Regions from separate parts of the Homo sapiens genome. Here region 1 is reported to be linked to region 2. The links are microRNA targets in miRTarBase. Many come from high-throughput screens and were not tested one by one. Region 2 holds a microRNA gene; the other region holds the end of a gene's coding sequence.

The links. Region 2 holds the annotated microRNA hsa-miR-542-5p (UCGGGGAUCAUCAUGUCACGAGA, at 1,196-1,218, opposite strand). A microRNA usually pairs through its seed, bases 2 to 8, with sites in the 3' UTR of a target mRNA and lowers its output. Matches are read on the target gene's strand: a 7mer-m8 pairs with bases 2 to 8, a 7mer-A1 pairs with bases 2 to 7 and ends in A, and an 8mer does both.
Region 1: the mRNA of UBQLNL is a reported target of hsa-miR-542-5p. Seed matches in the 3' UTR shown: 7mer-m8 at 2,873-2,879.

What each region holds. Positions count from the first base shown.
Region 1 is chr11:5,511,897-5,515,288 of GRCh38, forward strand. UBQLNL (ubiquilin like) reads right to left here. Exons shown (of 1, transcript NM_145053.5): 1 at 2,497-3,392. The coding sequence ends at 3,118. Among named protein-coding and RNA genes, the nearest start is that of UBQLNL, 3.1 kb to the right of the region's middle.
Region 2 is chrX:134,540,205-134,543,622 of GRCh38, forward strand. It overlaps MIR542 (microRNA 542), which reads right to left and starts at 1,233; the gene lies at 1,137-1,233. It overlaps MIR450A1 (microRNA 450a-1), which reads right to left and starts at 227; the gene lies at 137-227. It overlaps MIR450A2 (microRNA 450a-2), which reads right to left and starts at 403; the gene lies at 304-403. MIR450B (microRNA 450b) reads right to left here and starts at 58; the gene lies at 1-58. It also overlaps MIR503HG.

The DNA of each region.
Region 1 (3,392 bases), not on the chromosome of region 2:
GTGGATTTCCAGGTATGATCTCCAAACTGACAGCATTAGCATCACCTGGAAACTTATTAGAAATTAGAGATTTTAACCCAACGGTAGACCTACTGAATCTAACACCCTTGGAATGTCGGGCAGAAATCTGTGTTTTAACACGCCCTCCAGGTGATCCTGGTGCAGATTCTGGTGAGAATCACTGGACTGGGAAAATGCAGTTAGAATTACTAAGACGGTAATTAAATCTTTTGGTAATAAGTTTAAATGAAACTAGTCAGCACAGCTGTATGCCGTTTTTTGCCTAAACAGAGACTAGGTGAAGAGTTGAGTATCACCATGATAAGTTAACTAGGCAAGTATTATGCCACAATTATTATCTTCATGCATCATGAAATAATCTTGGAGCCAGAAAACTGGGCTGAGAAGCAGCAAGATGGTGCAAGAGTGACATCTATCCACTTCCAAGTCCAAGGGAAACACAGATGTAGCCACTGCTGGAGAAGCAGTGTCTTCACTAGACATTCAGATCTCCATTATAGCAAAAAGGTGTAGTCATCCTTAGGAAGAAGGTTGTAGATATGTGGGCTTTTCTATTGCTAAATTATGACTTCTAAATGGTAGGATGAAGAGGCTGGAAAACTGGTGACGAGTAGAAAAATGAGTCAAGTGAGGAATTTTCAGAGCATATTGTGATGAAAATAAAAAAGATGACCTGGATAGCCTGAGCTTTTTATGCAAGCTGTAGCAAAGAGGGTATGAAGCTTAATCATATTAAATGGGGAGGTAAAAAATCCATTTTCACTGTAATTTATTTATTGAGACTTATCTTTTTGGTAGGTGTAGACATGAAGTAGGGGTCTTTGGCAGTGAGCTTTCTAGAAACACTTGGAAGTTTGTAGGCCCGCCCTTCACTCTTACCGATGGCCATGTTGGGGCTCAGAAGGGGTGGTCTGTTGAGCACACAAATCTCTGTGGATGGGTCCCCTTTAGAGTCCAGAATCTACTCCTCAACACCTCCCCTGCTCCCACCCTACTGCAAGAAACTACTGTTTCTCAACTGCTCTATCATAAAAGCCTCCTAACTGGTTTCCCTGCTTCCCTGGTTTTCCTCTACCACAGTCCATTCTCCACTCTGAAGCCAGACTGATAAATTGAATTATTTGATTTATTTGCTCAAAACTCACCAGTGACTATTACATTCACAGTAAAATCCAAAGTTTTCACCAGACCTATAAAACTTTTCACAATCTCTCTGACTTCCTCCCCATTCCCCGCTCCTTTTTGTCCATTTCAGCTACATCACCTCCTTGTTATTCTTAAAACATAGCAGGAATACTGCTACCTTGGGCCTTTTACTTTCAGACAGCCCCTGGATCTTCCTTCTCCCAGTGAATTGCATGTTCAGTTCTCGTAGTTACTTCTGACTTCTGCTCAAATGTCACCTTTTCAGAGAGGCCTTCCCTCATCACCCTATGTAGAATATCTTATTCTGATTCATTTTTCTTCACAGCACTTACCACTTAACATAACTTGTATCTCCACAAAAGAAAGTAAAGTCAATAAATAAAGGATCTTTGTTTTTTTCACTGCTATTTTTTTCAATGCCTAAAACAACATTGAATTATTATGGTAAAAGTGTTTTAAATTATTTAATCATGGAATCATTAAAACACAAATAATTGCATATCCTGCCATGGTGGGATACTCTAGGTGAGGCAGAAAGAGAAAAAGGTGGGGCATTGGCAACCATGGAAAATGTAAACTACAAACATAAGATAGATATACTGAAGGAGGTGATATTCTTGGAAGGTGCTGTGCCCCATGGAGGGCTGGATTTGTGGTGACTGGGATATACAGTGGAGATGGCAGCAGCTGCATCTCTGTGTGCTAAAGAGACAGTAGAGACAGCCCATCACCATCTTATAATGGTGGCAAAATCAACGAGCAGGAGGTTCCAATGATGATAACTATTCATCCGGACTTGGTTAATATGTGAATTCACCCTACTCTGGCCCTCATATTATTCCTGTTCCACTTTCAAACTTGAACAATTTGGGTTTGAGAAATTCAGGCAGTCTTTATGACTAAATATCTGGGCCTATCTATGTAAAATGTTTCCCTTTCTGTTTGAGCATGTTATGATTGTTTTCCCTACATATGGGTCTATTTATGTGTCTCTAGGTATTTGCATCTGTGTTTGCACATGGCTGTGTGTACTCATATGTGGACTCTATATGCCTGTATATGTGAATTTTTTACTATGTGAGCTTGTGTACATACACACACCTGTCCAAGGTGACATGCTCAAAATAATCAGTTTCATATACCATGCTCAAGTTTCATATACCATGCTCAAAATGCTCATGTTTTAGAGATAAAAACATTATTTTTATCTCTATATTAATATATGCATGTGGTTTGTGTGTTAATGTACATATAGTAGGTGAGACAAAAATCTCACACAGCTAGTTTTTTCTTTTTTTTTTTGCAAAAGAAGTAAAGCCAAACCTCAGATCGCAGCAAGTGAGTGTAGCCATTTTATTGACAGATGTTTCAGCCACGACCAATGATCTATTATTCAGTACAAGACACATTGGTTGATAACTCTTATTCCAGGACTTCTCCTGGCTGGAAGCATCAGGAAAGGTGCAAAAGGCAAATGAGATGGTCAGGTGGGTCAGCAGGCAGGTAGCAAGCAAACAAGTAGGCATGGTGGTTAGAATCTCTGGGATCTCTTGAGCTTGCGGATAGCAGCATTGGTGTCCCCTTCAGTAGCAATGAGTGCCTGTAGATTGGCATGGTGGTTCCCAAATCCCATGGCCTGGAGAGAATCCATCTGTTTGCTAAAACAAATCTCAGGAGCTTGCAGAGGGTGGGAAGGGTCCCCATCCGGGGATTGTAGCCTCTGCAGGACTGTTCCAGGCTTGTGGCAGCACTCAGGTCCCTTGGGCTCAGCTGTATCTGAAACATTCCAGGAACAGGGCACTGTGTCAGGATAGCTGCAGCTGGGGGCAGGAAGCCAACCCAGGCCCCATAGGTAGGGTGCAACCCAAGGCAGAAGAACAGGAGCCTCTGTGGCCAGCAGCTGGAGGGCCTGCTCAATCTGCAATATTGCTTGGAATGCTTTAGGGTTGCCTAAGCACTAAGCAGATCAGAAATCTGTGTCTGCTGCAGGAATGTGGGCAGCTGCTGCCTCCACTGTTCACTCAGCTGGGGCATACTTGTGAACAACATAATCTGAGCTGCCAGGTAGGGGTTGTTCATAAGCAACTGCATCATGCCTCCTGTGATCTGGGAGCTGCTCTGCTCATCTGACAGCTGGAGATCACCCTTTAATGTCTGTCTGGAGCTACTTAGAGAAACAGTGGCATCCTTGTATTCTTCTTGAAGCTGCTGGGTAAGCTCTATGC
Region 2 (3,418 bases):
AATGATCCCAATACACTTATATTACATATTCAGGAACATATTGCAAAAATAATTCTGCATCTTACATTTATCACAGAAGTAAACCACAGATAGCCGCTGTTAGATTTTTTGCTTATTCCCTCCATCTTTTCATCTGTATATTGATACAAAACTATACATGCAAAATGTTCCCAATATATTTATAGTGCATATTAGGAACACATCGCAAAAACAGTTTAGTATCGTTTTTGATTGCCTATAGTGACACAAGTCAGCGATAACCACCTCTAGACTTTTGGTATACTTCCTGATAGCCTCTTTTCCCCATATTATTGATACAAAACTATGAATGCAAAATGTCCCCAATACATTTATATTACATATTAGGAACACATCGCAAAAATAGTTTAGCATCTTTCTTTGGTCACCTTTATACCACAACTCAGAGATAATCACAATAAAGTTTTTATATGTTTCCTCCTAGCCTTTTATCTGTATGTTGATACAAAACTATTCATACAGAATGCTCCCTATATACCTATATTGCAGAGATGGGAAAATATTTTGCACCTTTTTTCAATCGCTAAATGTTTTATCAGGAGCACATTCTCATGACATGAAAATTACTTTCAGAAACATTATTTTACATGAAAGCATCCTATTCTATTGTACTAGCTAGCTACGCTGTATTTTATTTGTCTAATCCTTTGTTGTTGGTCATTCAGGATGTTCCTAACTTCCATCCTTAAAATATTGAAATGAGCATCTTTATGCATTTTTTTTAACTGGGGCTTTCTGTTCATGTAGTTTTTATGGTTTTTCTTGACCACTTGTGTGGACTCAACATACTAAAAATGACCCTGTGTCTGTAATGCTTATAGCAAAGTGTTTTCCAGTTGTTTGCTTGAGCATAAATTCTTTATTTTAGCATTCTAGCACAAGTATAAAATCATATACCTTATGTAAGTTTCAATTCATTCAACAAACATTTAAAGCAATAAAGACACAAATAAAGGCATTCCCATTACACTCCTATGAAAACACAACTCATCCTCCCACCCCATCCCATAGCAACCCCTTTCTTCTTTGCTTAGGGCCCACTTTCCTCCTGATCTTTTCATTGATTCGTCTTGTAATACTTACCACATGTTTTGCTATGAAGATGAGTGGCTCCCAGACCTTTCAGTTATCAATCTGTCACAAGTGCACACTGGTATCTCGTGACATGATGATCCCCGAGATGTCTGAGATCTGTGCATCCTTGACCGATCCCAAATTTCTGTATCACCCATGACCCCTAAAGACTTTTTAGAGAATTATATTTTGACAACATAACAAGAAAACGTGGCATCTCACACACACACACACACACACACACACACACACACACACACACACACAAAACCATGAAAAAGTAGAGAAAGAAGAAACTTCAGCTCTAATCCCACCACCCTTAAGTAACAAGTATGTCTGTTTTGCAGGTTTCCTCCAGGTTCTGCTCCTATTTTTCAATCATGGTGTCCATGTGATTTTGTGGCCCTGATTTTTTTTAAGTTGATATCATAAGCATTTTCCAGGTTTCTGTATATTCTCTATCATTATTATTTGCAATGGCTGAAAAAGGTTCCATTGAGTGAGTGACTAGATTAAGTCAACCCCTATAGCTTGACACTTCATTTGTTTCCTTAAGATAATTTGATTGAATCTACAGAAAATAACAAACATGGGACAGAGGTTTAAAATGAATTTAAATCATGCTTTTTTGGTTTGTGCAGATTGACTTGTACACGGCTGGGTAACTTATAGTCACTATTTAGTAATCCTGGGGCCAATCTTGGGCCTCACCCAGGAAGTGTCCAATGTATAGGCCAAAGCTCATCATAAGACTAGCCAGTTTCACCGGGAATTTTTGTAACCAAACACATTCACCTCCATTTCCTGCTCTGGTCACTACTGCATAGTCGGTTCTGATGAACAGGTAATGACATAAGGAACACAGTATGAGGCCTGGAGGAAGAGCCCCCAGAGAGTAGCCTCAGACAAATCCTTAACCTCCAGAGGCCCCAGTTTTCTTGTCTGTAATTATTTTTTGGACTGCCTTAACTCTGTTTGTCTTTCAAGGTTGTCACAAATTAAAAAAAGAAAAAAAAGAAAAAACAAAGTATTTGGAAAAGTATGTAAACACACGATACAAAGGCAAGATGTTGGGATACTGATGATTCTGTGGCCACGCCTTTAGAAGGTCTGGTCTTAGGGTAATAGTCTTGTCTGGATGGCAGGTGGGGGTGGACATGGGGGAACAGGTGAGGGAGCTGCCTTGGGAGACTCAGGCTTCAAAGCAACCCAGACTCTCACTGGCAGGTTGCTGCAGTGTTCTGAGCTCCCTGACTCCAGCAGTGGAGCCAAGGCCATGTTTCCAAACACCCACCAACTGCTCAGATTATAGAGCTCAGTAGTGGAAGGGGGAGTGCTCAAAGGCCCAAGCAACCACAGGAAGTGGAAGTCTTTCGGGGCTCCTCCCTCTTGGCTCAATTTACTATCCCCACAGGGGTTTTAAGCCTGGCTGAACTTGCCAAAGAGATCAGCTGTGGAGCTGGGGAGGAGGGAAAAGGTGGCAGATAGGTGAAATATTATGAAAGAGCTAGCCGATCCTTGTTTATTCACTGAGGAGTAACTAATGGGTGGGCCTGAGTGGGATGTAGGGGGGCAGGGAGATACACGTTTGCTACACTTGATGTATATATACTCTTTTTTGCTTAAGAGTCATGTAATAACTCTAAATACAAATGCATATATAAAATTCTAGGGTTATGAGATTAAGTCATACTGCAGGCCAATGGGAAAAAAGATCTCTAAAAACATATGCCAACTTGCATATAGCCAGACTCAAGTCTTTTAACTTCTATCGATAAACTCATTGATCTTCCCCAAACATATTTTTTGAACCTAGTTTTATTTTCATCTTACACAGCCTCAGGAAAGCTGCCTATAACTCCCATCTCATAGGCTCAGGTTTTCTGCAAATGTTGCCCTGAGCTCTATAGCAGTCCAGGATTCAGGGAACGAACCCAGTCCCCCGCTGCCCCATTTGCCTTGATGAGTTGATAGGTATGGTGTTTTAAAACAATCAGCAAAACAATTTGCACTGCAGAGTCCTTAGGAGTTTTTTTTTTAATTGGACAGTTGCCCATATTAACGGAAATCAAAAGCAGCATACAGTCATTCAATGTCCCAGCACTGGAGTACAGCCCACTGTTTTCCTGTGTGGGGTTCCACTTTAGTTCTTGTCTGTGTGCATGCATACATTTTTACAGAGTTGTGACCACTGCCTTTTTCTGTGACCCTGGTTATTGACATCTAGTTTTCCAAGTAACATTGACACACATCTGTTCAAATCAGTTGAGGTTCCCATCATGACTGACTCATTTGGCGGGAAAAC